Linked DNA regions of Homo sapiens: region 1 is linked to region 2. The links come from fine-mapping of genetic effects on gene expression. A gene starts in region 2. The other region holds a variant in brackets. All regions are shown on one strand. Distances are from middle to middle. Region 1 overlaps ARHGEF3 (Rho guanine nucleotide exchange factor 3). Region 2 holds the start of ARHGEF3 (Rho guanine nucleotide exchange factor 3).

Region 1 (16,111 bases), 45 kb before region 2:
CCTAACTGCTCCATTTACCCCCATATCAAAGCAGTCCACAGACTCAGGAAGTTTAAGAGACACTGAGGCACTCTCTACTCATTATACCTTCTTTGTCTCTGTCTGTCTCCGGTTGGCTGGCTCTCTTTGGAGAAATTTCTTTGTGGGCTAAAGAAGTTAAAACATCTACGATGGCTCATAATAAAATGAAAGTCAAAAATATAAGATGAATGATCTCTCTTGAAATATTAAGGCATATTTTCTAAATTATTCATCTTAGAACATTACTTGCCTTTCGGATACCTTTGGGATATTTCAGCCTTGGTGCTAAAATTGACTCCTGAACTAAAGCTATTTAAGTCATGAAACTCTCATCAAGTATCTTGATCAAGGCAGTCATTGAGAAACGTAAGTTAAAAGATCAATGTTAAAACTTTCTGCACATCTATGTGTTATCAAGGCATGTTAACTGAAAGGTTTTAGGAAGATTAAAATGCAGATGTAACGGAATAAAGAGAACTCACATAGCAACAGTAGGATTTATAACCTTCACAACACTCTCCAAACAGTGAAATAATCTCTAATATTAGCTGTTGTGGTACTTCCTGCCTATTTTTCTGGAATACTGTGAGCAACAGAGTGATGAGAGACCTAATCTTGCCTGGAATAAGTCAGCAAAGTAATCTCCTCTCATTATCTGCTTTATAACAAATGAAAAACACCTGGAACTGGGGTGGACCATTCAAGCACTCACAGAAGGAAACATAAATGTGTAGAATAGGGAGCGGTGGGGACTGAGGCAAAATAAGAGCACACGCCTTGTCTAGCGTAAGTGAAACAAACAACTTTAAGTACACAATAAAACACAAATCCAGCCCCAGGATCATAAATTTATGACTCCTAATCTAAGATCACAGCTTACTTCTTTTTATTTAATTAGGAAAAGGAATGGATTATATTAGGATGAAGGTCACCATATACCCAGCTCTCCTATAAATTACTTAGCATGGTATATATGCTAAACATTAGCAACCTTTACTTATTATCTTGTTTATAAAACTACATTTTGACCATGAGATTTTTTTTATGGCCTAAAAAGTTTTTTTTAATATGCTAAACATTAGCAACCTTTACTTATGATCTTGTTTATAAAACTGCATTTTGACCATGAGAATTTTTTTTTAATAGCATGACAAGTTTTTTTTTTTTTTTTTTGGTAGTGGATATATGTCAATAAATTTTTATTGGAGTATATTATGTTAGCGATTGGCCTGACGGAATATTAACTAGTTTTATTTTGATACGAAACTAGTAATAGTTTCATGTGTACCTTTACTTATTTTGTTCCAAAAGGCCCTGTTACTTTTAAATGCAATAAATTTGTAATAAGAAAAAAACTATTTTCATGCTTTAAAGATACAAAACTTAAATTTAATTAAAATTTTACTAGGATTTTTTTTTCTGATGTGAAACCAACATTTGTAAAAAAATAAAAATAAAAATAAAAAAAGTCTAGCTAAAATGAAACTCCCATCTATATTATTGAAATTTATCTTCAATAAAGACCAGAGAACTTTCTTACCCAGCCCACGAGGATGGGACCAACATGTTCAGTCGAGCCATCAGGCTTCCTAACATCTCGAAGCTGACTAAGGAGCTCTGGCAAAAAACAAACAGATGCTTATTTGTTAGGCATTCAAATATGAACAGGGCTGGAAGTAGGTTCTGGGTTATTCACATTGCAGGCAATTAATAATCACTCACTCATTATAAGACAACTCAGTTAAGGCTACAAGTCACGACTCATCCTGGGAACAAAATTATACCTTCATGTAGAGGAATTAGAGAGTCCAGTGTTCCAAAAATTTGATTCAACTCTTGTTCTGTCATTATGGAGAGTTTCAGCATGGGGTCATGATAGGCCTGCACAAAAACGGCAAGAGATGGAAGCACATGTTTAAAATCAGAGGAAGTACATTGTTCATGTAAGTGGCTCCTGAGAGGTCCTATCCAATAACAAAACTTCTGGCTCTCTAACAACTTCTCCCATAAAGCTGCAGAAACAGCAGAGAGGTGTGGCTGGAGGAGAGGAGAAACCAGCACTGCCTTAAGCCTTTGTGGTTGATAAACCAAAGCAGATTTTTCAAAAGCTTTTTTATTCTAGTATGTCATATATCTAGGAAAGAGCACAAATCCTAGGTATAGAACAGATTTGACTGTTAAAATGTTTTCAAAATCAAGATCCTGCCTCTTAAAAAAATCCCACTTTATTCAAAACTAGCTACTAGCAGATTCTTTTTTCAATTAGTACATATTTAAAATAAAGAAAAAGAGGAAAGAAACAGTGATTGGTATCCTTTACTACTGATTTGAACAAAGAGAGCAAAGGTGATAATCCTATCACCTCTTACTAGAGAAAATTAAACAACAAGAATACACAGTTATACCCAGGGCACTAAAATAGAACACAAAGACTTAAAAGTCTCCTACCTTCAAGGAATTTTATAAAGCTAATGGGGAAGATAAGAAAAACTAAAATATTTTCTAGTTTATATTTTAGTTTCTGATCTCATGGAAAACTAAATCTATGTTTAAAAAATATTTTTTTCTTTTTTTTTTTGTACTTTTTAGTAGAGACAGGGTTTCACCATGTTGGCCAGGATGGTCTTGATCTCTTGACCTCGTGATCTGCCCGCCTCGGCCTCCCAAAGTGCTGGGATTACAGGCGTGAGCCACAGCACCCAGCCTAATTTTTGTATTTTTTAGTAGAGACAGGGTTTCACCATGTTGGCCAGGCTGGTCTTGAACTCCTGACCTCAAGTGATCCTTCTGCCTCAGCTTCCCAAAGTGTCGGGATTATAGGTGTGAGCCACCGGACCCGGCTTATGTTTAAAAATTAAAGATTAAAAACCAGACTGATGTCACAAGACAGCAAAAAGCCATCAAATCAAAACTGCTCTAGAAGGTCAGAGAATTAAAGCTGGAGTGGCCAAGGGAAGTTTTGAAGATAAGCTGCTTGGTACAGAGAAGGAGGCAATAAATGTTATGTAAGAATAAACTGAGATTTGAGCTGGTTCCTGAAGGATGGGTGGATATGAATGGTTGAAACGAAAGAGAAAAGTTTCTAGGAAGGTAGGGCCACCATAAGCAAAAGGATGGCTGGGAAACACCTGAAGGTGCTTGAGTTTGGCAAATCTTGATGCAGGAAAGGGGAGTTAGACACCAGCATGATAACTCTCAGAGTGAAATAACTTCTTTGTCCTCTCTGATCTCCTCCTCCTCCAGCTCTGCCTAAAACTCAGTTTCTTGGCTGTGTCCAAGCAAAGCTTGGGTGGCCATCTCTCAGGAATGCTAGAGGTGGAATTTCATCTTAGCAGAAAGACTAAAAACCCTTAAAAGAAGGGATGTAGCCTTCCAACCCTGTGATTCTTCGAGGAGGCTGTGAATATCAGATGAAGGAGTCTGGATTTTAGCCTCCAAGCCATGGAGTTGGGGGGCTGTGCCACTGGAACGAAAATGTTTTTGAGGAAGGTTTGTTGTCCTCCTCCTCCCCACACAAAATGTTGATTAGAAAACAAATTCCTATATAAAAGACCCCAACTTATATGATAGTATGCAATTGCCTCATTTCACTTTATTCACTTTTGAGATTCAAATGGCTTTATTTCTAAGACTCAGTTCAAGTTTCAGACATGCACACATTCTCTCCTATGGGCAAAGAGTCCTACATATGAGACTTCTAGGACAATGAAATATACATAAGGCGAGGCCTCCATGGACACTTTCTGATTTAGGCTGAAGTATTCTTTGACATGCATTAGAGACATACAGAGGTAAACCCCTAAAGGTGCCAGGTCTGGAGAGCTATTCTGCCCTCTTGTTTTGAAACACTTTCCCCACTGCTTGGTGTGTGGTAGCAGACCAGTCTTAGTCATAAAGACAGTTCTCACGAAGCACCACTTTAGGGTTGTGAAATTACTCAAGAAAAAAAATGTGACTTGACTCAAGTGACTGCTGGATTTAAATTTACCTTTTTTGCTAATTTCAAGTCTTCTATCAAGTCTTCTTCTCCTTGGGAAAGCTCAAAGATCGCCTGCAAGGAAAGATAAACATATTCACTGAATTCTCCCTTCATTTACAAGACCATATTCAAATAGTGCTGGCTCCACCACTCAAAACCCCAAATTTACATATTTAAGTATTTTAAGTTACGTTAACCTGAAGCAAATGCATCTATGCTTAAACCTGCAATGAAAAGATATTGCAAAACTGCTGCATATTGTGCTTCTCTGTTTGTGGGAGAAAGTTTCTACACATTTCTAGTCCAAAAAGTCATCTTTCATGTTACAGAACTTTGATGCAGCTGAACAAGAGGGAACTATTTTAGGTAAAATAATTACAGTGTGAGCCATGGATTTGGTACCCTTGTTGTGAGAGGCCATCATAAGAAGTGATTCAGAGGCTCTTCTAGATAATGGATGTGGCAGTATTATTAACTGGGCCATCCCCACTTTTTCTTCTACTCGACAGAAGGCGAATCTCAGCAGAAAGTTTTATTTGTATTATCCACTGCCTTGAGGCTGAGATTGTAGGAAGAATCCAACATTTTATCACTCCAAATACAACCTGGTGAAGTTAATTCATTCTAAACCACTTCTCAGCCCCACAGGTACAACAAATAAAATTATAGGCGCTGGCTGTGTGGAAGAGTAGGTAAATGGACCGTTTCTAATTTGGCTCTATTAAGCCATCATGCTAAAGAGCTATGATGCACAGAACACTCTTTCACTTCCATCTGGGAAGTCAAACTGTCAGCAAACATTACATTATTAAAGGAGTACAAGTTTGTAACGATATTTCAGGGTCTACTGTGTTTCAGGATATAGGGAAACAGTGGTCAGGCTTTGAAAGCTCCCTCCACCTGGGGCTGCTTGGTAAACTGAGGACAAAGCAGGTGGAGGCACAACCCTGAGCTGGATACTCCAAGGATCTCATCAGATGATGCACACATGAAGTGCTCAGCACAGCCTGGCACAAGCACTTAAACAAGCTCTTCTATACAGGGTAATATTATCAGAGTCATTTAGGGCAACTGATACAGAAAACTTACCGGGAATGAAATTAACTGGATTCTATAGAAAGGAAGTTTTCCATGAAGCTGAATCAAAGCTATGTAAACTAAATATTTTAAAATAGTCTATAAGTTGCTAACAAAATATAACTAAAATGATTATTTTTGTGAACTTCAGAATCCTAAATAGACACTTGGTTTCATCTTCTTGTAAATTCATATTTTCACATCAGTTTCTTTTTAAAGTGGGGGCCACACCCTCCCAGCTGGTTTCTGGTTTCTCAGTTCCTTCCCCAAGGTCAGACACTCTTGTTTATCCTTCTGCAAACGCAATGAAGAATTGATTTGGAGACTAAGGCGCAAATTCCAGCATGGCTGACGCTGCAATGCACCTTTGTTCCAGACACACAGCCAGCTCCATGGGCCCCGAGCCTACCTCCTGACGTTTGATTTCCTTGGATGTAAGCATCTGATTGACGCACACATCGAAGGTCTCACTCCACAGCTTGCTATCTCTCCGTTTCGTGCTCGAGGGGGCGGCATTTCTGGACCAGGGTCGGGGGGCGAGGATGTCAGGGCGGCTCTCACTGCGGAAGCTAATGGAGCGCTAAACAATGAGAAAAACAAACCATCACGGGGGCAGCGGCAGGACTGGGTGGATCTTTGAGCAGTTTCCTGTCGTTGACGGAACATAAATCATATATGTGAAAGAAAAAGAGGACATTGCCACAAGGCCTTTGGGAAGTGGGGCATTGTCTTGAGCCTACGTGCTAAGGAAAATTGGACAGGGGGCTGCTTTGGAACATGTGCTGGGAGTATCTGTTCTGTGTGACCTGGATACCAAGTGGACTATAGTGCAAGCACATATCAGGCCAAACTCACGCATGAAGGCAGTTCTTGGATACGTGATGAGCTCTACTTTTTTCCAGTGGACATCTCCCCTCTTTAAAAGAACCAGAGATAACAATAGTGGATGGCCTTTATTTATTCAAACATTTGGCCAGTACTCCTACTCTCCTCCTTCTATAAATAGAATCCCACTAACTTTGGGTATCCTATTACATATAGTTTTGGTGGGCACCCCCAGACCTGACCAATAGAGTATTCCACCATCCTAGTTCAGGGATGGGCATGTGATTCCCTGAAATTTGTCACATGAGTTACGGGAGAAAGGAGGAAAGAGTATTCCTTTGGGATTGTGAGTTCAAGAGAGAACACAAGCAGGGCCTTCCAGCAGCAACTCTCCCTAGTTACACAGAAGCATCTGTCTGCTACAGGAGAGAATAAAGAGACCCAGAATGAAGGATGGAGTGACCAATGGAGGCAGGAAGGGAGCAAGCTTTACCAATACTGCTTGAGCCTCTGGATCCCACTGTGCCTGAAACCAGAAAGAACCACCCTTAGACATTTTCATTACATATAGAAAGACATTTCCCTTTCTATTATCTCAGTTGGGGTTCTGTCAACTTGAAAAGTCCTGACTAATACACATACTAAATACCATCTTTGCAGCACATGATTCCTGTCCCTGAGGTATTTTCCTATTTCCCAAAGAGGCCGCAGAAGTCCACCTGTGTGACTTAAACATGCTACCAAAATGCTTTTCATGACAAATACAAATGATCCAGAAGAAAGCTGAGTGCATCATTTTCAGTCTTCATCCTAGAAGATTTCATCACACTTATTGGAGACTTTGCCAAAGCAATGAGGTTGCTGTGCTCCAAAACCACATTGTTATTTAGGAAGTGTTCCCTGCCATGGCTCTCTGTGGCCTTCAGCAGGAAGTTTCAACTCCTCATCTTGGCACAGGAAGTCTCTTGTAATCTGACCACAGTCTCCATATTTAGGATCCCATCCTGCCACTCATCCATGAGCCTCCATTTCTCCAACCATACTAGGCTATCTGTCATTCCCTAAATATGTCATGCTTTGCCATCCCTCTGTACTCCCTTCAAACAATCTTCTCTTCCTGGAATGTGTTTCCATCACTTCATAGCTGGCTTTTTTTTTTTTTTTTTTTTTTGAGACAGAGTCTTGCTCTGTCGCCCAGGCTGGAGTACAGTGGTGCGATCTCGGCTCACTGCAAGCCCCGCCTCCTGGGTTCACGCCACTCTCTTGCTTCAGCCTCCTGAGTAGCTGGGCCTACAGGCGCCCGCCACCACGCCCGGCTAATTTTTTGTATTTTCAGTAGAGACAGGGTTTCACCATGTTAGCCAGGATGCTCTCGATTTCCTGACCTCGTGATCCGCCCGCCTCGGCCTCCCGAAGTGCTGGAATTACAGGCATGAGCCACTGTGTCCGGCCATAGCTGGCTAACTCTTAACTGCCCTCGGGATGTAACTCAAACAGCACCTCCTCTAAGAAGTCTTCACCAACATTCTCCCATCCTCCTCCCCCAGAGCAATTCAGACATACTTCTGATATAGCAATGATCATACTTGATTATAATTATTGGTCACCTGCTCTTAACTAGAAACTTCCTGAGGTCAGGAATTGAATTTGCTTATGACATATGAGCCTTCATCACAAAGGCATTCTAAGGTAGTTCCCAGTTATTTTGAGATTCAACAATAAAATTCCAGAAAGTAAAGAAAAATTTTAAAAGGAACTATTCAACATAAGGGCATTGTTAAATAAGTTGTAAGTGGCTGGGCACAGTGGCTCACGCCTGTAATCCCAGCACTTTGGGAAGCCGAGGTGGGTGGGTCACCTGAGGTCAGCAGTTTGACACCAGCCTGGCCAACATGGTGAAACCCCGTCTCTACTAAAAGTACAAAAATTAGCCGGGGCGTGGTGGCATGTGCCTGTAATCCCAGCTACTCAGGAGGCTGAGGCAGGAGAATCGCTTGAACCCAGGAGGCGGAGATTGCAGTGAGCCAAGATCGTGCCACTGCACTCCAGTCTGGGCGACAAGAGTGAGACTCCGTCTCAGAAAAAAAAAAAAGTTATAATTACCTGCTGGATGGAATATTATCTAGACAATTCAGAGATAATTTAAAATGTAAACACCCCTTCTATGTAGCCTAAAATAAAATCAGGATTAAAAATCTATATGTGAACATTTTATAGTTATGCAAAAAATGCACATGAGCAAAGATATAAAGGGAACATCACAAAATTCTATTGTTGTTTCATGTTGACATTATGAGTGATTTCTGTCCTCCTTTATATATTTTTAGCCTTTTTTTTTTGTTTTGAGATGGAGTCTTGCTCTGTCGCCCAGGCTGGTGTGCAGTGGCGCAGTCTCAGCTCACTGCAAGCTCCGCCTCCCGGGTTCACACCATTCTCCTGCCTCAGCCTCCCAAGTAGCTGGGACTACAGGCACCTGCCACCACGCCCGGCTAATTTTTTGTATTTTTAGAAAAGACGGGGTTTCACTGTGTTAGCCAGGGTGGTCTCCATCTCCTGACCTCGTGATCCGCCCGCCTCGGCCTCCCAAAGTGTCTAAAATGGCCGGGCGTGGTGGCTCACGCCTGTAATCCCAGCACTTTGGGAGGCTGAGGCGGGCGGATCACCTGAGGTCAGGAGTTCAAGACCAGCCTGAACAACATGGTGAAACCCTGTCTTTATTAAAAATACAAAAAAAATTAGCTGGACGTGATGGTAGGTGCCTGTAATCCCAGCTACTTGGGAAGCTGAGGCAGAAGAATTGCTTGAACCCGTGAAGTGGAGATTGTAGTAAGCTGAGATTGCGCCACTGTACTCCAGCCTGGGCGACAGAGCAAGACTCCCTCTAAAGGAAAAAAAAAAAAATAGAAAATGAGGCGGGGCTTGGTGGCTCATGTCTGTAATCCCAGTTCTTCGGGAAGCCAAGGCAGGCGGATGGCTTGAGCTGAGGAGTTCGAGACCACTCTGGGCAACGTAGCAAGACCTCATTTCAGTTCTAAATTAAAAAAATATATATAGATATATATGTAAGAATAAATGAAAAATGTAAAAAGAAACTTCCAAAGAGCTTCAGGGTATTACCACAACCTTCTGGAAGCAGGACGCTCACTCTGCAAGTAGCAACACAAGCCCCTTAGGCTGGCACAAGTAGTGGGGGTGCTCCTGGGCTCACTAATGAGCTCATGATGGCTGGACCAGCCCTATGCAGGTCAAGAAAGTACTTGCACCAAATACACAGTTCACTAATGGTATCTTACAAATCCTTGTGATCTCTTAAAAACAGTCCCTTGTAAA[C/G]AGTAACCAGGAACTAAATGCACACAGATCGCCAGCACTCGGAATCAATTAGCCACAAGCATTAAAAGGTCAAAACAAGTGCAGTGAGTCATTAAGTAACTTGCTCAACCCAGTTTGCAGTTCTGATGGCAGCTGAGTTAAGAATTAAAGAGCAGAAAGAAAGGAAACACACACAAAAACTTCAAAATGAAAGTTTCCACTTTCACTTGAGAGAATCAACCTCCTATCCTGTTATATTTTCAGTCCTTGGCTAACTTTAAACTCCCCCTACCAGTTTGAAAATAATGTATGCTAACTTTAAATTCTCATACATTACAAAAGTATATAAAATTAAGTACAAATGCCCTCATTTCCCCAAGTCTATCTCCTAGAAGTAACAACTGTTAAGTTTGTTCTAGCTCTTTCCAAACTTTTTCCATGCATTTGTTAACATTCATAGAAAACTGAATTTTTTTTTTTTTTTTTTTTTGAGATGGAGTCTCGCTCTGTCGCCCAGGCTGGAGTGCAGTGGCACGATCTCGGCTCACTGCAAGCTCTGCCTATTGGGTTCACACCATTCTCCTGCCTCAGCCTCCCAAGTAGCTGGGACTACAGGAGCCCGCCACCAGGCCCAGCTAATTTTTTTGTATTTTTAGTAGAGATGGGGTTTCACCATGTTGGTCTCGATCTCCTGACCTCGTGATCCGCCTGCCTTGGCCTCCCGAAGTGCTGGGATTACAGGCGTGAGCCTCCGCGCCTGGCCGAGAATGTTTTCTCTTTCTACTTGACAGTATCTTGAGGTGAAATTTACATAACTCAATTACTTTTTCGTTGTTGTTTTTTTGGAGATGGGTCTTGCTCTGTTGCCCATACTGGAGTGCAGTGGTGCAACCATATCTCACTGTAACCTCAAACTCATGGGCTCAAGTGATGCTTCCACCTCAATCTCTTGAGTAGCTGAGATTATAGATGAGTGCCACCGCTAAGCAAGTGCCTGGCTAACTTTTGTATTTTTGATTTAGTAGACATGGGGTCTTGCTGTGTTGCCCAGGTTGGTCTTGAACTTCTGGTCTCAAGAGATCCTCCCGCCTCAGCCTCCCAAACTGCTGGGATTACAGGCATGAGCCACTGTGCCCAGCCTACAATTAACCATTTTTTAGTGAACAATTCAGTGCTATTTAGTATATTCACAAGGTTGTACAACTACCATCTCTATTTAGTTCCAAAACATTTCCATTACCTCAAATTCACGTATTCTTTTTAATGGCTGCAGAATTAGTATCCCTCCCATAGTCTGGACAGACCTATTGATTTAATCAATCCACAACTGATGGACATTAAAATTGTTTCCAGTGTCTGGCTATTACAAAAAGTGCCTCAGTGAACATGCTTTGTGTATTTGTGCTGATACTTCTAAAAGGCAGGAATTCCTTAAGTGGAATTCCTTGGTCTAAGAAGTATGAACATTTTAATGTTTGAGATGTACCACTAAGTTGACCTCCAAATAGGCTATTCAACTTTATATTCCTCAGATAGGTACATAATAGTACACTTTGCTCACACTCTCATCAACAAGGTATTATTATCAATCTGATAGGTTAAACAACTATACCTTAATTTCAGTTTTGTGTTTTGAAGGTAAGATTGAGCATATTTTAATTAATTTATTTAAAAATTTCCCAGAGAGTTGGAGATTGTCTTCTGCTGCGGCATGGGAAAAAAGAGAGCAGTAAGCTGTACTAGGTGAGCTCTACCACTATGAATTTCTTGCTTTGCGTTTCCCTAGTGATTGCTGGGCTCAGGGTACTATGGGGGATATCACAGAGGGTCTTTTATGCGCTTTGCCTACACGTAGCACTTCTGATATATTCTCTCTGATTCTCACAACCACCCTGCAAGTTGGGGGTTTATTCCCATTCTACTGAGGAGGAAACTGAGGTTGAGGGAGGCTAAGATTCAAAACCAGATCTGGTTCCAACAGAGCCTGAGCTCTTTCTACTTTGGGGACTGCATCTACTGTTTACATGCAAGACATGCATTTTGGGGAAGTTTCAATGAGATGGGATCCAGCTCCTGCCTTCTAGGAATATAAATCTACTTAAGGAAAGAGAGAGAATACATTTGCTCAGTTTTAGGAATAATGGCTGATATCTGACCAATCAAATTTCAAATTTACACCTTTAATTAGGCTGGATTAAAAGAAACATTTTTTCTTACTCCACTCAGAAGGGACTGGATGTTGAAAGAAGAATCCCAAGGGAGGAATAAAGAATGCCAACCATTTGTCCAGGTGAGGTTACTGACACCTGTAAGTCTAGCAATTTGACAGGCTGAGATGGGAGGATTACCTGAGGCCAGGAGTTTGAAACCAGCCTGGGCAATGTAGCAAGACCCTGTCTCTATAAAAAAGAATAATAATAAAAGAATACCAAACCAGTGAGTGGTCAGCAGCCGTCTGGCCCCGGGGAAAAGGGGCAGCAGCTGGTATGGTCTGGGGACAGCACATGGGTGATGGGCAGGTGTTCATAACAGCACTGACCACATACCATGAGCTACCCCTGAACCCATCATCAGTACCACTGGGAAAAACTACATGAGAGAACTAGAGTTGAGGGAGGAACAGGCAACTACTACTAGAAGAAAAAAACTCCAAGAGGATGCCTCTTTAGAGAGAAGAACAGCCACATCCCTATCAGCATCCCTGCCACTGTCCATCTACACACCCTCTGCCCTTCTCTTTTTTTTTTATATTCAACATGTGCTGTATTTATAGGTTTGTTTGTTTCTTTCATGTCTATTTCCTTCCAATAGAAGGTAAACTCCTTGAAGGCAGGCATATCTACCTCCTCTATTCACTGATGGATTCATCAGCAACTGATATAGTAAGACCTCAACAACTTTTGCTTAATGATTAAATGTTATGCTTGCTATGTGCTGGGCACTGTGAGGGGAGCTTTAGAGCCCTGCTTATCTGAGAGGTAAGGATTCTGTCCCCTTTACAGACAAGGAAACTTGAGGCTCAGAGAAGGTGACACTTTGCTGAAGGTCACACAGCTAATGAATGGTGCTTTATTATTTAAAACCCGGTGGTAAGGTGACTGTCAGAATGACAATCCAAGTCTGGTCTATTTCAGGCCAACCTCCCTGCCCCAATATTTAACCAATATCCTACCCTAATTGCCCTAGGATAAGATTCATAGTGTAGCGGGGTACATGTGCCCAAATAAATGAACTGTAGTTTACTTCTTGGCCTGTAGAAAGTTTCTCAACCTGGCCACCACAACATTTTGGACTAGAGATTCTTTATTGTGGGAGGCTCTCCTGTGCATTGTAGGATATTTCGCATCATCTTTGCCCTCTAACCACCAGATGCCAGCAGCACAGCCAGCCCAGTTATGACAACCAAAACACCTCCAGACATTGCCAAATGTTCCTGGGGTGAGAAACGCCAGTCCACGGTAACTAGAAGAGGCCCACCTCAAAGTGAGGGACCTGGCCTTGGGCAGGACCACATAAAAACAGAAGCACATACATAGATCTCCCTGGGTGTGGGGATGCTGGGACCGGAGTGAAAAATATTCCAGGACAAGCAAGAGTTTCCATGAGGGAATCTGGCCTAGCAAATGAGTCAAAAACTGCAATCTCATAATTGCTGGCAGCTAAAACAACAATGACCATAAAACAGAGATAATGCAGATTGAGGAAATGGTGCTCAAGTTTATGCCCAAGCTGGATATGTGGAAAAGATGCTGCAGATGCAAAACAGACTGTCTGCCGGGGGTTGGGGGACGGGGGTGGCATGTGCGCTTTACACGTGTCAGAGGAAATGTAAACCCAGCAGGTAGACATGATGGGACAGATCTGATTTGTTAATGCCGCCTGTTCAGCGGAGTCCTCCCTTGCCCTTTTCCAAAAACCATTTTCCACAGCCACAGATAACATGCTCCAATAAAGTATTCAAGCCAAGGAAATTCTCCACACTTACCATGCTAACCATATTGCTATTTTGTAGCAGATGGTTTATTATCAGGGATTGGAGGTTGGGGTGGGACTGTAAGAGGAAAAAACTCTCCTATGTTGCCACTGCGGTGGGTTAAACCAAAATGTACAGCAATAATGGCCAGGACAGGAAAATGTTAACCAACAGCATCCTGGAGGAGTCTCCTATGAGGCTCCATTACAGAAATTAATGTTAAGTGAGAAGTAACACTTCCCAGCTGTGTGGTCTCTGTCACATTTGACCCTCATGCTAATCCTAGGAGAGGATGAGTAATTTGAGTAGCAGAGTGGTAAGTGAGTGGCACAAGTTAAGTGTTGGAATAGGAACTGAGTGCAATTGTTTGACTCCAAAACATGGATTTGGGTGAAGAACATAGGCTTTGGAGTAAAACAGGCATGGCTTCAAGTTGATTCAATGGCTGAGAGACCTTTCATCTCTCTGGGTCTCAGTTTCCTCATCTCTAAAAGGTGCATAATAATAAGTACCTCACAAAGTTGTAGTGAGGATTGGATAAGATAAAGTACACAAGAGGCTTGGCCAAGTCCCTGGCACTCGGTCAGCAGGAATGGTAGTTACCTATCATTGTCATACCACAGACCACACTGCCACTATTAGTGCTTGTTTATACGTGCTTTCATTAATTAGCAAACAGCAGACACATCTTTCTGAACTACCTGGGCCAAATGGCTCCTAGAGGGACTTCCATTAGGATAACTCCTAGGGAAAGAAAAGCCCTCAGCAGGACACTGTTGTTTATAAAAGATCTGGAAACAGCCTAAAATGTTCTACAATAGGGATTAAACAAATTACTCTGCAACAATAAAAGGGAACCTTAAACAGTTGTTAAGAAACATTCTTTTTGAGAAAAGCTTAATGATAAGGAGAGAGCCTCACATGCAGAGTTAAGTGAGAGAAGAAAGATCCCAATTTGAAATACAACAAAATGTTAACAAGGTTTACACCCCTGGATGGTGGGACTACGGATAATTTTTGTTTTCTTTTTAAAATTTTATTTATTTTTAATTTTTTGATTTTATTTTATTTTTTTTTGTAGGGACAGGGCCTTACTATATTGCCCAGGCTAGTCTTGAACTCCTGGCCTCAAGCAATCCTCTTGTTTCAGCCTCACAAAGTGATGGAATTACAGGTGTGAGCCACTGCACCTGGCTGATTTTTATTTTCATCTTTTAATTCTCTACATTTATTTTCCAGACTTTCTTTAATGAAGAAATATTAACTAAGAAGAAACACGGTCAGTTGACGAACATGAAAGACAATGAACACTGAGTTAGAAATGGTGCAATAAACATAAAACCACATATTTACAATCTGATTCAGATTGATGCACATTAAAACCATGGTAAAAGGGCACCCAATTAATTCATAATCAATAAATGTCAAACCTCAAAGACCCAGTACAACAAGAAACCCTTCTGTAGCTTGGAGATATTCTGAGTAGAATGAATGAAAAGCTGAAGAAAATATTTGGCTTAGGTGTAGAGAAAATATTATACAATTTGCATAGTGCAAGTCCAAAATTAGGAAGGCTTCCAGAGGCTTGGGGCAGTAGCTCAACCATCTTCATTGGGCACCATAAAATGGCTTTTGCATGAGAATGTTAATGACAAGATATTCCACAAGCTGAAATGGAAATGATGACTCTCCCTGCCACAGAAGGTGAACAGCAGTGAGGTGGGATGCTCCAACTCAAAAGTCTGGTGACTATTTTTAAATCCTGCCAAACTTCAGGCTTTATTATGACCAAACTTTGACTTTTTGTGATAAGCCTACGGCAGGAGAGGCACTCTGAACACCCTACGGAATCCCAGCTCTGGCACTTACCAGCTGTGTGACCTTGGGTACAATTTTAAACTTTCAGATCTCTCCCTATAAGTGGTGATGAATCCTATCTTGCAGAGTTTTGGAGAAGACGATATGAGGCCATGAACATAAGGTACTTTGTGCAGAACCTGGTTCATCATAGATACTACACTAATGAGTGTTATTACTAAATAAAAAATGACAAGCTTTAAATTACAATAGTCAACAAATTTTTTTTTTTTTTTTTTGAGACAGAGTTTCGCTTTGTTGCCCAGGCTGGAATGAAGTGGCACGATCTCAGCTCACTGCAGCCTCCGCCTCCCGGGTTCGAGCAATTCTCGTGCCTCAGCCTCCTGAGTAGCTGGGATTACAGGCGCCTGCCACCAAGCCTAGCTGATATTTTGTATTTTAGTAGAGACGGGGTTTCACCATCTTGCCCAGACTGGTCTTGAACTCCTGAGCTCAGGCAATCCGCCTGTCTCGGCCTCCCAAAGTGCTAGGATTACAGGCATGAGCCACCGCACCCGGCCCAATATCAACTATTTACAGTGGCTTCCAGGAACAATAAACAGTAATATTCTACCACTCCAGGAATAGTAAAGAACAGCAGAGAATCAGGAGTTCCTCTTGAGATGGACTACAGATAACTTGTCAGCTATACTCTCCAAGCTTGTCCAACTTGCCTTATTTTGTTGTTGTTCTGTTTGTTTTGTTTTAGGCTTTTAGCAGCCTGAAGCCATGGTTTTTAGTTTCTGTTTCCAGTGATAAGCGGAAAAGAGGGATAAGGAAGGGGCTTTACTGGCCCAACCAGAAAGAGAAACTAAGAACCCATGATTATATCCTCTCCCTTGGATACCCATTACAAGACAGTCTGGTTTCTGGTTGCTTTCCCTAACACACATGTGCCTTCCACCCCCAAGCTCATCTCCATGTCAGCCAAATAAGTTAGTTATAGAAAATTTATGACCTTGGACCAAGGGACAAAGTTTGAGGTCCTTGGAGAAGGTAATCATGGTTGCCAGACATGGAAATCAGCACATATGCTTGGGTAATTTCTTACTTATTATTTCTTATATCTA
Region 2 (16,111 bases):
TGCTCAAGTCCATGATATAAAATGGCATACTGTTTGCCTATATCCTACACACATCCTCTTACACTTTAAATCATTTGTAGATTACTTAGAATATCCAATACAATGTAAGTGATAATCGTTGTTATCCTGTATTGTTTTTTATTTGTATTATTTAAATTGTTGTATTGTTATTTTTTATTGTTTTATTCCCTGATATTTTCTTTTTTTTTCTGAGACAGGGTCTCCCTATTTCACCCAGGCTAGGGTTGCAGTGGCACAATCTCAGCTCATTGCAGCCTCAAACTCCCTGGCTCCAGCAATTCTCCCACCTCAGCCTCCCAAGTAACTGGGACTACAGGTGTGTGTTACCACGCTTGGTGAATTCTTTGATTTTTTTTTTTTTTAGAGATGGGGTCTCGCTGTGTTGCCCAGAATGGTCTCAAACTCTTGGGCTCAAGCAATCCTGCTGCCTCTGCTTCCCAAAGTCCTGGGATCCAAATATTTTTGACCAATGGTTGGTTGAATCCGTGGATGTGGAACGAGTGGATACAGAGGGCCAACTGTATACAACCTGAAATGTTGTCCCTGGAGGTGTTAAGCAGAGATTGAATGGATCTGGCAGCAGATAAGAATTGGGCTACATGTTCTCAACAGGCCTTTCCCACTCTGAAGTTCTCTGATGCAATGACCCTGGGTCATTTCCTGGAGGCTGGATTTGTTTGCTTCATAAATCCTCAGAAAAAAAGAGCCTGTTTTGCTACTCCTTTCCTCCTCATCTTAAGAGCCAGAAAGAAGAAAAAAGTCTAGTGAACTTACCGTTAAGGTTTCTCATTCAGCTTCAATTAACTGAAATTTACTAACAATCAGGGCTACCTTCTCTCAAAAGGACACAATGGTCCAAACAGAAAGTCCGGGCACAAGTGTTTCTAGACTTAAAAAGAGCCACTCCTTTCCCAGCCAGTAGAAGGTTTGGAAACCTTTCCTGATTAACTTGTGACACAGTCTCTCTCTCTTTTTTTTTTTTGAAGATGGACTCTTGCTCTGTTGCTCAGACTGGAGTGGCGCTCGGCTCACTGCAATCTCTGCCTCCCAGGTTCAAGTGATTCTCCTGCCTCACCCTCCTGAGTAGCTTGGATTACAGGTGTGTGCCACCACGCCTGGCTAATTTTTGAATTTTTAGTAGAGATGGGGTTTCACCGTTGGTCAGGCTGGTCTTGAACCCCTGACCTCGTGATCCGACCACCTCAGCCTCCAAGTGCTAGGACTACAGGCGTGAGCCACCACACTGGGCATGACACAGCCTCTTCTAAACTAGTTATTGGTGTCAACTAATTAAAAAAAAAAAAAGGAAGGCAATAGAAACCACTGGCTTTCACTCCTGACAGTCCATGAGCCAACATAAGAATAAATGGCAACGCAGTCACGGCAATTTCCTCATTTTGTGTGACCTCTACCCATTATCAAGGCTGACAAATTATGGAAGGCAACTGCACACATACATGACAAAGTAGCCCTTCCAGATACACACATCATCAATAACAATTACATTTACACAGGGCTTTGCAAAATTAGGTTGTGATCAGTAATTTATTTTCTTTCAGTAGTTATGAAAACGGTGGCATCTGTCCAGGATTTTTACGGGCAATCACAGGGTGTCTCGAGAAAATGACACAATTTGCAAATATCCAGATGGTATTTGGGCCTTCCAGTGATTGGTTTACACAGAAGGCTTGTGGTTAATATAGATAAGCAAAATGACTAACAGAACTGACGGTGGCACCTCCACACAGCTAAGCATGCAGAATTCTGCCAAAGACCAGCTCCTTGGTCTTGAGAAACACAAAATGAAAATTACTAAAACCCTCCCAAATGGGGGCTTGCAAATCCCACTCCCGTGGGTTGCAGCCGTTCTATGAAGTGGGCTGCCAGAAGTATTGACTAATGGTGGGGTTTCCTACCCAGACACTCAGGAAAAAAATGGGCCTTTGAGCATCAGGCAATTTTTTGGGCAGGTGGGTTCATCCTTCACGTGTTATGAGGTGAGAAGACCAATGATTTAGTCACTTAGAGGCAATGTGATGTGGTTGGAAAAGTACAGACTTCAGGGTCAACTGGGATTTTAGTCTCATCTCCTTGACCCAGCATTAAAGCCATCCTGGGAAAGCCACTACCCTGTTCTGAGCCTGTTTCTTCTTCTACAAAACAGGGCATTAATACCAACCTCATAGGATTACTGTGATGATGAAAGGACTTACGGTAAAGCCCCTAATGCACTGCTGTGTGTAAAACAACATTCAGGAAATTAGGCTGGTGATCATCATGTTTCTTAAAACCATTTTAAGAATCTTTTTTTTTGAAATGTAAAGGTCTTAATAATAATGACATTTTTTGAGCACTTACGACATGCTAGGCACTATGGTTAGCGCTGTATATGAAACATCTCGTTTGACCCTCACTATGGTCCTAGGAGTTAGAGCTCTCATCATCTCCATTTTACCATTGAGGAAACAGGTTTGGAGAGGCACAGTAGCTTGTCCAAGGTCACATCAACTAGCAGGTGGTGGAGACAGCATTGAGACTCAGGCAGTCTTATTCTAGTCAATGCCCTTGAACAGCATTAAATGTACACATGTAAAGTCAACATATTTTCCTCTTCTGTTGCTAGTTCATGTGCATTCTTAAGGACCAAGATTCCCAAAATAATTTTCCAACTGAACAGCCTCGGAATGATGGCTCAATGACCATAACCAGATCCTATAGCAAGTGATGGCCTTTTTCTGGGTAGCTCCGTGTGGCTTCCCATCCAGCAAGATCTCTGAGGTCATATGATTCCTGGAGTCTATTTAATCATCTGAAGAAATTACAGGATTCTAACTGCAATAACTCCTTATGACTAGTTTCATGTGTGTTCAGGTATACTATCTGTTCAATACAATAAGATACAGATTCCAAGAAATGTATAGATTACTAGAAACCAGTAACCCTCTGGCTTTTCAGCTGGCATTCAAGAAGTACAGCCCGAGGTGCATACAATTTTAAAATGCACATGTTGACTGATAGAGGCATAAATCGTGGCAGGAGCATAGGGTTCACCTTGCCCTTTAGAAGTGGGCCTTAAAGGATACCTTCTCAGTTATGTAAGGTGCTCAAGGTTATACTTAAAAGATAATATTTTAAAGTATTTTGCATGTCTGTTAAGTTTTGTACTACCACCCCACCTTTTATCCCACAAAGGTAAACACCCTTAGGTGCTACAAGGGATGCTGATATTAAATGCTGGACGGAATCCATCAGGAAATTTGACATTGGATCTTGGCTTAGCTGCTGATTTTCTTTGCAGCTTTCTGCAAATCGCTTCCCCTCAGTGTCCTTATTCATAAAGTGGAGAGAACAGTACAAGCTTTATGTTAACCTTATTACAAGTGTGGGGTCTCAAGTGAGACACTAGACATGGTAGACATAGAAAAGGAGCAGAGCTCTGTCATTTCTAGGTGCATGTCATTATTCTCAGGGTCATGCAAGGCTACTGGCTAAGTCAAAATAAGAACCTATACTTTGGAGACCCAGGGCAGTATTCAGCTATTCATGAGATAGGCCTATGGTCTATGGCACTACAAATTTTTAAAACTGCTGAGAGTCAAAAGCAATGGCTACAAATACCATTAACTAAATCAGGCCTAATCTGACCAATATCTAAGATGGTAAATTTTAAAACTGAAAGTAAGTTGTCCACCAAGTTGTCAGATATATTCTTACAAAAATAACAGAAACACCTCTTTGTATTTTGATTAAAAATGAACTGGACCTAAAACTCTTAAAAGCTTCTCACAAGGCTCTAGCTTCCTTAGCCAATGTGTGCACCTTACCTGAGCTTGCTTCCTTTTCTTTACTTCGTTTTTTTTTTTTTTTTTTTTTAAGCCTTCTTTTTAAAAAGCAAACCTCACTACGGGGAAATATTGATTTTTAACTTACAATCAGGATAATTCATTAGAGGTAACACATTTTCTTTTAGTGATTTGATCAGGTGTTTAGCGCAGCTATGTAGACCAGTCCCTTTTGGCATGGGAAGTAGATGACCAATAAATACAAAAACAGATAAACTGAACAAAGCTGCATCAAAGATCAGAAGAAATAAACTTAATGCTCGTATCATATCACATTTTTCTGTGAAATTCTAGAGCCATGAACTAAGCTCCTTAGATTTCACAATTAATGATTACAGCCAGCAGGACCTCACTGATTATGGATATTAAAATTAAACATTTGCCAACCAATTCAAACCCCCATGTCATAAGAAATAGCAGATTAAGAGGCAGTATTATACTAACAGACATGCAATATTATAATCCCTGTAGAATATTTTCAAAAGCTTAAAATAGATCTTTTAAAGAAAATAAAAATACATTTTAAAAATATCATTTTTTGCTTTCACTGGAAACTACCACAAATAAAAAATTACAAATCACTTAAATCTTGAGTAGAAATTTTATTTGCTTTTAAGAGAATGCTTATTTTTGCATATTTTTTTACTCAGTGTACGGTATCAAATGCACATCAATGCCACTTGCCTGTTCCCCAGGAGCCTTTTCCTAAGTGATTTTCCCCAGTACACTTGCTGCAAGGATAGGAGTCAATGCTAGAAGGCACTTCCCAGTGCCATGCTGTGTGCACTGTCCTACCCAAGGCAAATTCGGAAGGAACAGCCATTACACACGGCCATTAAATGTTTAAAGGGCACAGGTGCTCTGTTGCAACGGCCTTTGAAGGTCAACAAGTCCTGTTTTCCTAGAAAGGCCTCTGGATAGATCTATTTTTCTTTTTATTATAACCACATTCTTTCCACAAAGAAAACAATCACTCTTAAAAAAATACTTTCAGAGGAATTAACAGTCAATGCCTAGCTTATAAACAATTATATAATCATGTTTTTCAAAAGGCTGACAAGCGAATGCTATTTTTTAATTTATGAATACTGACGACACCTACTGGTGGAAAATATATTTTAGTTAACTGCTTATGGAGAAGCTAGGCCTACAAGGGTTGGCTGCCTTTTGCGCTGATAAGGAAACCAGAAAACTACCCACTAAACTCACTTAGGTTTCTTTTTCCAATTTTGCCAATTTCCATTATCAGGAAGTGATATGCTCATCGATGAAGCTAAAAGATATCTCTGCCTCAAAGTGTATAAAGCATACTTGATTTAGTGTTTAAATCAAACACTAAAAAACAAAAACCCCAATAGTGATATCTGAAAAATATTTACCAACTATTTCCAAAACTATTCCAACCCCTTCCTTATTTCTCACATCAGGATATCCCCATACGAGGAAAATAAGTCATATTTTATAGTCTAGATCCAGCTACCAATGAAGAAAATTAATATTTGACATGTGATAAGTTTCATATTTGTGATATATAGACATATCTATATTCTATGTATAAGAATAAAATGAAATTAAGCAGGCAAGTTTTACCTAAGCCTTTAGCTAAACTACTCAAAAACACAGGACTAAGTAATAGTAGGAAGGGACTGGTTAGAGTCCTCAGCTATCCTCACTATTCTTTTCTTTGGCCCACTTCAATTTATTAATTTATTGGTTATGCCTTTCTTCCTTACAAGTGGAGTTTGAGTGGGCACCAATTGCGCTGCTCCTATGTTGATTAAATTAGGAAGTTCCCACTGAAAAAATATTATATCCATTCCAGGCCTGACCAACCTGAATTCTATGCAAATGCCACTAGGGCCATCACACTTTCACAGCTGCTGGCAACAAAAACTCTTTGTGATAATATTCGACTGAGCTGGAGTGTAGGGTTGGGTTTGAGTGAGGGAGAAGTTAGTTTGTGCTCAGCGTATAGAAAGCTGAATACAACCAGAGACTGCTTGGAGTCCTGTCAGCCTGGAGCAGCTCTTGCTAGAGGAAATGAATCTTTGATGGTGTGCTCCCGAATATACATGATTCAGTGAGCCAAGTGCATACAGCTGAGCAGACCCAAGGAAGGCGAGTGGGTGGAACCTCAAGAATGCTGTGACAAGGCCGGATGCACACCTGCCTTCAGCCTTTCCCCAGTGGTGGTGGTGATGTTTGATGTTCGCAGAGTGAGGTGTGGGAGAGTGGAAAGCTCCCAGATACACGCATGAGCGGCAATGACTAGCTGGGTCCTGTGGGTTCCACCGCAGCTTGACCACAGCAAAGCTGTAATCTAGCGAAAGCGACTGTATTCCCTAAGACCCTCAAAGAGAGGGATGCTTTCTCCTCCAGCTGAACCCAACCTTTAAGGCCAGTGAGCTATGTGCCAGAGAAATAACACGCAAGAGGAAAAGGCAGACTAAACATAACCTGGGAGCACTCCTTCACATCGCCCGCAAGGCACAGGAAAGTTCCCAGAAAGAGAAATGTTTCCAATGTTCCAAGGCAGCTTTCCATTGACCCTAAGGACTTTAATTCATTTTCAAGATCCATGTGGGAGACACTCCAATTTACTCATTTAGCCCCAGCCCCCCGGCTGAATGACCCTCACTGGCCACAGGTGATAGGCAGAGGCGCTGTGTCCTGTTTTTGCTGCCAAAGGGCTGCAAGGCCAAGTCTGACAGGTGAGAGGGCTGGTACGTCCCTCTGCTCTCACAACCCAGGCAAAAAAAACTCGCTTAAAGGGTAGCGACACTGGGGCTTGCTGACACTTCCCTGACACTGGGGCTTGCTGACAGTAGGAGAAAGTCCCTCTGAGAGTCCAGACAGAAGATGGACAGTCTGAGAGCCCTGCAAAGGCAAGGAGGCAGTTGCTCCCAGACCGGCAGGTAGAGGGACAGGGAGAGAGGAGGCAGCTAGTGCTTGGTCCACAGAGAAAAAGCGAGAGAAAAGGAGACAGGGTGAGAGATGGCGACGGGGAGACACAAAGAAGACTGTGGGAGAGATGTAGAGAGAGAAAGTGGCACACACGGAGAGTGAGAGATGGAAACAGAGACAGTGACACTGGACGGGCGCCGAGAATGGGAGATGGAGGCAGACGAGACAGGCAGATGACCCATAGAGGTCCAGGTGCAGGGCGCGGCCCTACCTCAGCGTCCTTGGCCGGACCGCTGGCCGGGGGTAGCTCCAGGCTGCAGTTCGCTCTCTTGACCGTGAGGTAGAAGGGGTAATCCTTGGCCACCATGGCGGCTGCCGGGCCTGCCCTTTGGGATGTCACCGCTGACCCTAGGCGACTACAAAACTCCCAGGCAAAAGGGGGCCCCAGCTCCACGATGCCGGGCGGCGGCGGCGACACGGAGACCGACAGCCGGCTTCTAGCCGGGCAGGACTCGACTGGGCTCCGGAGCCGAGTGGGCGGGACCGTGCCAGCCACGCCTTGATGGGTGGGGAGGGGGCGGGCCGCCGGCTCGGCACCGCCCCACGCTGCCGGGAGGGCCCACGTGCCGCAGCGCGGACACCTCCTGGGGCTGCGAGGGGCGTGGGGCGGTCCCGCGGGTGGAGAGGGACCTCTCTCTCCCCGCTGGTATTCGACTCCGGGCGCCCCCGCAGAGCGTGGGCCGCGATTGCGGGGCAGGCAGACCCCATGATAGCTCCTTTCGGGCTCTTTGGCACTCTCCGGGTGAAAGGCTGCTGGTAGAAAGGAGGCTGGGGCGAAACCGGGCAACGGGGAGAAAGGAGGCTGTAGTGACACCTGGAGGCAGGAAGGAGCCTGGGGGGAAAAGCGAGCGTTTTAAAAGCCCACATTAGAAAGGGGTGGTGTTCTCTCTTACCCTGTTCCCAGGCCACTGCACGTTTTTTTTGTTTTGTTTTGTTTTTGTTTGGTTTTTTAAATGAATGTCAGTGGAATATAATCTACAAATGGCAAAATGCACCCATTTTAAGAGTACCGTTTGTTGAGTTCTGACAAATGTAAACACCCGTATAACCACCTCCACAGTCGGTATACGAAACATTTCCACCACCCCCGGAAAATTCCCTCGAGACCTTTCCCACTTTGCACCAACTTTTAAATTTGACTAGCATATTCAGAGGCTGCCTGACACTCGAGGGCAATCTGACAGAGTGTCCTTCAAGTATAAAGCTGTGCATGGATGACCTGGCACTACCACACCTTTCTGGATCCTTTTTGGAGAAACAATGACATTATAAATGCCCAAGAAGGCGATTGATCTTAAGGTTGTTTGCAGCAGCCCTGTCTGGGGCAGTAAAAAATAAAAAATAACTGGAAACAATGGTAATATATCCATCAATAGGGAGTGCTTAAATAAACTTTCTTCACTGTGTAATACCGCTTAGCAGCAGTGAAAAAGGAGATGGGTCTATGGGTGTGGCATGGAAAGATCTCCAATGTATTAGACTCAGTTTAAAAATAATTGCAGACTAAGCATAATACAATACCATTTGTGTTAAAAAAAAATACAAGTTTACCAAAGAATATCATATATTTTCTATAAAGACATATTTGTGGGTAAATAGCATTGAACACTGTCTACAAGAATCCACAGCAAGCTTTTACCAGTTCCCCTGTGGCTGAAGGGAGGCACCTGGGTTTAAAGAATTAAAGATAGTGAACAAAAGGGACTTAAGCTTATAGCTCATGTTTTAAAATTTTTTATAAGAAAAATACAGCCTGGGCAGCAGTGAAACCCTGTGTCTACAAAAAAAATACAAAAAATTAGCCAGGGATGGTGGTGCACACCTGTAATCCCAACTACTCCAGAGGCTGAGGTGGGAGGATCACTTGAGCCTGGGAGGCAGAAGTTGCAGTGAGCCAAGATCATACCACTGCACTCCAGCCTGGGTGACAGAGACCCTGAGAAAAAATAAAAAAGAAAAGAAAAAAAGAAAGAAATAGAGGAAGGAAGAAAGGAAAAAGAAAAGAAAAGAAAAGAAAAAAGAAAAGATGGCTAGGTAGAGTGGCTCACACCTGTAATCCCAACACTTTGGAAGGCCAAGGCAGCAGTGTGGCTTGAGGCCAACAGTTCAAGACCAGCCTAAGCAACATAGCAAGACCCTGCCTCTACAAAAAAATTTAAAAATTAGCCAGGTATGGTAGTGCATGCCTGTAGTCTCAGCTAATCCCGAGGTTGAGGTGGGAGGATTCCTGAGCCCAAGAGTTCAAGGCTGTGGTGAGCTATGGTTGCACCACTGCACTCTAGCCTGGTGACAGAGTGAGACCCTGTCTCAAGAGAAAAAAAGAAAAATACCTTCATTCATGGCACTTCTTGGGAAATTATAGTTTTTTAAAATATTATAATTATCATATTTTCTTTCTTTTTTTTTTTTTTGAGATAGGGTCTTGCTTTGTTGCCCAGGCTGGAGTGTAGTGGCATGATCTTGGCTCACTGCAACCTTCTCCTCCTGGGCTCAAGTGATCTTTCCACCTCAGCCTCCCAAGTAGCTGGGACTACAGGCCTGGACCAGTGTGCCCAGCTAATTTTTGTATTTTTGTAGAGACAGGGTTTTGCCATGTTTGCCCAGGCTGGTCTCCAACCCCTGAGCTCAAGCAATCCACCTGCCTCAACCACCCAAAGTGCTGGGATTACAGGTGTAAGCCACCATGCCCAGCCCTAAAATGATCATCTCTCAAAAGTTATTTTGTAGACTGTACTGTTGAATCTTTTTCCTCCTCATGTGGAAAGTCATGACTACATCAGGTGGTGATCTATGGAGACACTATCTTTTGTTTTTACTTCCTGGGGATGCAGGGGATAGTGGGAATGGTGATATCCAGTCCCTGTTTGCGTGCTCTTTGCTTCTAGCTGAGGTCAGAACCCAGCAGTTCCTACTTCTCAGGCAGGACACCTCATAATACATAGCTCTTCATCCCAGGTATCAAATCCACACCCTCACACTAAATCCACTTACTTTCCTACCCAGCTAGTGCAGACAAACTGCCTTTGGAGGCAGAAAGAATTGGGCCCTGTGTAACCAGCCTGTTATTACCACACATGTAAATGAAGCTCCTGAATGGGTGGAGGTTCCAACTGAAATTGAAGAGAGCACCTGAGTTTTTTTCCCTCGATAGATAACCTGAAGCAATAGGAAGAAAACTGTCTCAGAAGAGGTATGGGGCAGGAAAGAGCACCTCAGAACCACTGATTTTTCCTATTTGTATTCCTGAACACAATTTTATCCTTTTAGCCTGAGCTGTGCTGATGGGGAGCTCACACAAGTGCTCCAAAAGCTTAGCCAAGCTTGGTGGGGGTGTGAGAGTAACCTCATCTCCAAGTAGCCCCTGATTAACTATGCAGCCAAAGGCAGGGCCAGAGGCAGTGACATGCGTCACTCAGGGCTTGTCTGGCCACCAAGAACCTGTGCCCAAGTACCCGAGCCACTTCTTATTCCTCTTTCTCTGCCTGCTCTTCTGGCCCTCACAGTCCACTATCTCAACTAGAACACATTTGCCATCAAAGCCACTGGCTTTGACTCCCAGAAGAGCTTGCTGGGCCGTGTTCTCAAGTTGGAAAATATACTTACAGCACTTGGTGAAGAAAATAGTCACCCTGGCGACGTCTGATAGCCCTGGGACTGGGTTGCTCATTGCAGTATCCTTAGGGCCAAGCAGGGAGTCTGACATACCATAAATCCAGTGTAACAGTAAACAAACCCTAAGAAATATGTTTATTTTATTTTTTTGAGACAGGTCTCACTTTGTTGCCCAGGCTGGAGTGCAGTGGCACAATCTTGGCTCACTGCAGCCTCAACCTCCTGGTCTCAAGCAATCCTCCCGCCTCAGCCCCTCAAGTAGCTGGGACTACAGGCACACGTCACCACGCCCAGCTAATTTTTATATTTTTTGTAGAGATGAGGTTTCACCATGTTGCTCAGGCTGGTCTTGAATTCCTGAGCTCAAGTGATCCACCCACCTCGGCCTCCCAAAGCGCTAGGATTACAAGCATAAGCCACTGTGCCTGGCCTCCGAAGAAATGTTAAAGTGCAACTTAGGTTGAAGCACAACTATTGCAGAGCAATGAACAGTCATATTGATTGATGAGAAGGCTGCCGTATCCATCTTCTCTTAAAACATTTCTTTGCTTTCCTTAAAATATACTGGAGCCATAAAAATCAATAAATACACAGGGCTACACAACATATATATGACAAACATACCTCTTTTCCACTATACATGCTAGGCAAAGAGAGACAGACAGAGGCAGAGAGATTACTAATGGCCTGTAACAATTTAAATAGTGCTATAAAAAAGCATAAGCTACAAAAGGAAAGATGGGAATCTGGAATTCTCTTGGGTGGTCTGATTCTTCCAAGCTTCTTATAGCACGAATGTCTCACCATCCAGAATAGGATTCTGGTGTTTAAATACAGATATTTTTGGTACAACAAAGCCTATAAACTCAAGCCAGCAATTTGGGGTGCATACAAGCCATGTATATGGTCCTTGAGGCATTTAACAAATTTTTCAGGAGTATTTTTTTTTAACTTCCATCAGTATATAGGTTAAGGTCAGGATTAGCTATTTCAGGAGTATTTCTGACCTCATGCAATTTCCACCTTGGTCCCTGACTTCAGCACCTTCCCCATATGTAATGCACTGCTCCACCATTGACAGATTGGGGTTTTAGGCAATCTGCCTGAGACACTATCTGGGGGTGTCCGTGAACAAAGACTGTCAGAAAACAGGCACCCCTGCAGGAGGGCCTCCAAGCATATCCCTAAGGTTAGTGTCACAGTTGAGGGAAGCTGGTCCAGTCCTGCAATGCCGCCAAGCTAAGTGGCCCCAGGAGCCCAGAGCTCCCCATTCTGCCTGTGTGTGTGTTTACGGGCTTAGGAACAACACTGCTCTAACAGGCAGCTTCACTCAAAGAAACGGCACAAAGTGTCTTTCAGAACTTGCCTTCGGCATAGCCCGTTATAATCCTATAAAATGCTTCACAGCCGGGCAGTGTTCCTTGCCAGCCAGAAGCCTGGAGACTGAAATAAAGAGGGCTGTTCTGCATTTGCAGGAACTGTGCCAAGCACAGGGCCTGTGGTCTTGCCTGTGTTGAGCGGGGGTCATTTGGGCTGCTGGTGGAATGGTAGGCCTGAATACAGAAGCCCACCACTGGTTATTAGCTCCTTTTAGACTTGCAGACAACCAGGCATGGCTTGGAGACCATCTGTCAACTCCTTAAATCCCAGTCCCATGACTGGGAGCAGAGCAGGCCTAGCCTGAGGATAAAACCAGAAGCTAACATGGCTGTGACAGCCTTCTCAGCCAACAGGACAATGCTTTGTCCTATTAGCGTTATATTTTAACATAAGGAATAGCGAGTTCCTTTTTTTTTTTTGAGACACAGTCTTGCTCTGTTGCCTAGGATGGAGTACAGTGGTGTGATCTTGCTCACTGCAACCTCCACCTCCCGGCCTCAAGCAATTTTCCCGCCTCAGCCTCCTGAGTAGCTGGGATTACAGGTACACACCACCACGCCCGGCTAATTTTTTGTGTTTTTAGTAGAGACGGGGTTTCACCATGTTGGCCAGGCTGGTCTCGAACTCCTGACCTCAAGTGATCTGCCCCGCCTTGGCCTCCCAAAGTGCTGGGATTACAGGTGGGAGCCACCGCGCCAGGCCTGAGTTCCTTTTTCTTTAAAGGCTTGTTCATCCATCCGTTCATTCATTTATCAAATAATTAATGAATGCTTATTACAGTCAGGTGTTCAATTAGATACATTTCTCCCCTCCTCTTCTCCACCCATTCCTGAACTTCTATGCCAGGCAGATGTTTAATACATACTTGCTCAAAGAATAAGGCCAATTTTAAAATGTGGCCTTTCAATTGTAACCTATGTGTTTACATTTGAATAAGGAGCTCAAGGAACAGTAGCTGATCCCCGAAAGCCTGGGCCTCCAATATGTGTACCTCTGTTTGCTTTCCCTGGTATCTGAAGTCATCTCTTCTACCTGCTAAAGTGGCATGGATGTGTAGGTATATGGTGGGCACATGAGTGTTGCAACACCTTTCCCCTCCCCTTCCATTTGGGTGACATTTCCAGTTAATGACCAAGCCCCCCTCTCCTCTCTCTAATTTCAGTTTTGATGGGGAGGGAACCTAAAGAAGTTCTGGCAGTGAATTCTGGCAGATCAGGACTGTGATTTACTGCTAGATAGGTAAAAATGGCACAAATGAAGCAACCATCATCTCTAAACTCATACCAGTATTACTATTCTCCCTTTGCCTGAGGAGCTGTCCACTGACTCCAGTCTAGATTTACAAAAATGTATCTCTGGGCTGGGTGCAGTGGCTCATGCCTGTAATCCCAGCACTTTGGGAGGCCAAGGCGGGTGGATCGCCTGAGGTCAGGAGTTCAAGACCAGCCTGACCAACATGGTGAAACCCCGTCTCTACTAAAAATACGAAAATTAGCCAGGCATGGTGGCGGGTGCCTGTAGTCCTAGATACTCGGGAGGCTGAGGCAGGAGAATCACTTGAACCTGGGAGGCAGAGGTTGCAGTGAGCCGAGATCGTGCCACTGCACTCTAGCCTGGGTGACAAAGTTAGACTCTGTCTCAAAAAAAAAAAAAAAAAGTATCCCCGGATAGTCTAAAGCTGGAAGGCTTAATTCTTGCATTTTCTTTAAGGTCTCATTTTCTGAAAAACTGGTTAAAGGAGAGTATCTCTCTCTCCCAGCTGAGCTAATCCTGTGGATTATCAGCTATAAAGCAAAAAAAATAGTAATAATAAATTAGCCAGTCACAGTGGCTCACGCCTGTAATCCCAGCACTTTGGGATGACGAAGCAGGAGGATTGCTTGAGCGCAGGCGTTCGAGACCAGCCTGAACAACATAATGAGATCCCCATCTCTACAAAAAAAGAAATATCCGAAAAGTAGCTGGGCGTAGTAGCATGTGCCTATGGTCCCAGCTACTTAGGAGGCTGAGGTGGGAGGATCCCTTGAGCTCAGGAGGTCGAGGTTGCAGTGAGCCATAATCATGCCAGTGCACTCCAGCCTAGGCAACAGAGTGAGAACCTGTCTCAAAATAATTAATTAATTAAAATAAAAATAAAAAATTAGCTATGAAATTAGCAAATTTTTTTGTTTTTTCAAAAAAATAATAATATTGAAGTGTTTTGCCCTGAAACATCATAAACATTTGCTAGCCTCTGGTTCATAAGAGCAATACTTCTCAACCAATGGTGATTTTACCTCCCAGCAGATATTTGGCACTGTCTGGATGTATTTTTGATTGATTGTCAGTGGACAAGGCCAGGGTGCCATTGGCATCTAATAGGTAAAGGCCAGGGATGCTGTTAACACTTATGATACACAGAACAGCTTCCCATAACAAAGAATTAGCAGGTCCAAAATGCCAATAGTGCCACTATTGAGAAACGCTGTGGTAAAGAGAGAGTGGTCCTGAAATATGGTATTGGAGCCAAGGGAATCTGTGGGTATTGACCTCAAGGTATTTTCACTTCAGACTTTGATCATTGATTAGTATCAAATATCAGCTTAGGCTTGGTGGGGCAAAGAAGAAATGCTTGAGTGCCAAGAAACCCCAGAACAGGGCAATGAATCAAGTCTTCCCTGATGCCCAAACCTGACCGTTGGCTGAATAACAAATTCCATAAAACACAAGACAGACAAAAGAATAAAGAGGAATATAGGAGTAAGGGAGTGAGGGGACAGAAAACTGTCTTAAACTGCTTCAGGTACACAAATATACTTTAAAACACCAGTGAAAATTAAAATTTCAATGAAATATAATAAAGAAGAAACCAGGGAAGAGGGAATTTTTTTCAAGTCTTATTCTTCCCCAGGACAACCTTTGCCACTATATTTGTTTTGGGGGGCAGAAATGCAAACTCAGTGATTAAATGAAAACCCTAAGGGGTTTAATTTACTATTTTCTTGATATATGGTGTTTCTGGATGCACAGTTTGTATAAACAAAAACCTGTCTCACTGAAGATTTTGCAGTAAGAAACCTGACCTTCTCCAATTTGAACTTATAACTATCAGCAGGCTTGTTCTGCCCACAGAAGTAATAAAACATTTTCTGTGTACTACTAGAGTGTCTTTGAATTTTCTGGAGAGTCTGCCTTTGAGAGTATTTCATATTTGGGGGTTAAGGATTCAATAAATATGTTATATTTAATTTTTAAAATATTTTTTACTTTACTTTTTTTTTTTCCTTTGTGACAGAGTCTCACTTTGTCACCCAGGCTGGAGTGCAGTGGTGCAATCTCGGTTCAGTGCAACCTCCACCTCCCAGGTTCAAGCGATTCTCCTGCCTCAGACTCCTGAGTAGCTGGGATTACAGATGTGCACCACCATGCCTGGCTAATTTTTGTATTTTTAGGAAAGACTGGGTTTCACCATGTGGGTCAGGCTGGTCTCGAACTCCTGGCCTCATGTCATCCACCTGCCTCGACCTCCCAAAGGGATTACAGACGTCAGCCACCGTGCCTGGCCATATATTTATTTAGTTATTTATTCCCCTCAGACTACAACTAAGGTATTCCTTTATGTGGGTTTCGTATAGTAACCATTATTCAGAGAAATTAGAACCTAAAATGTATACATTCCAGCTTTGGATATTAGAGGTGTTTTCTCCTCCATCAACTACAAACTCAGTAATCAAAGTACCGTATTTTGTCGAACCTAAGACTGTAATATGTGCTATTATTTTATGTACTCTCTAAAATAGGCTGGGTGTGGTGGCTTACCCCTGTCATCTCAGCACTTTGGGAAGCTGAGGCGGGCAGATCATTTGAGCCCAGGAGTTGGAGACCAGCCTGGGCAACATGCTGAAACCCTGTCGCTACAAAAAATAGACAAAGTAACTGGCATGGTGGCACACATCTGTAGTCCCAGCTACTCGGGAGGCTTGAACCCAGGAAGCAGAGGTTGCAGTGAGCTTGAGACTATACCACTGCACTCCGGCCTGGGTGACAGAGAGAGACTGAGTCTCAAAAACAAAAAGAAAAGAAAAGAAAAGAAAAATATTGTCAATTAAATTATATGATCAATTGTAAGACCCTTGGCAATTCAAGAGAAGTTAACATGTGGAGGAAAATGTGTAAAATAACAAAATATGGCAGTATTCATATCATCTGGCCTGAATTTGAAAACCCATACATTTATAGAGAAATGACTTCTGAGGAGTCAGGGACACTCCCAGAGACCACCTGCTGTGAAATTGACTAAGAAGCTTATCAAA

What was found.
Region 1: its variant is fine-mapped to the expression of ARHGEF3 in whole blood (TOPMed, PIP 0.98).

What each region holds. Positions count from the first base shown.
Region 1 is chr3:56,749,495-56,765,605 of GRCh38, forward strand. ARHGEF3 (Rho guanine nucleotide exchange factor 3) reads right to left here. Exons shown (of 10, transcript NM_019555.3): 3 at 5,487-5,657; 4 at 4,010-4,072; 5 at 1,806-1,902; 6 at 1,562-1,638. Among named protein-coding and RNA genes, the nearest start is that of ARHGEF3, 44 kb to the right of the region's middle. RefSeq lists an enhancer at 13,458-14,335. The variant C/G (reference allele first, on the strand shown) is at 9,233.
Region 2 is chr3:56,794,665-56,810,775 of GRCh38, forward strand. It overlaps ARHGEF3 (Rho guanine nucleotide exchange factor 3), which reads right to left and starts at 7,285. Exons shown (of 10, transcript NM_019555.3): 1 at 7,039-7,285. The coding sequence starts at 7,134. RefSeq lists an enhancer at 4,871-4,920 and a silencer at 7,285-7,454.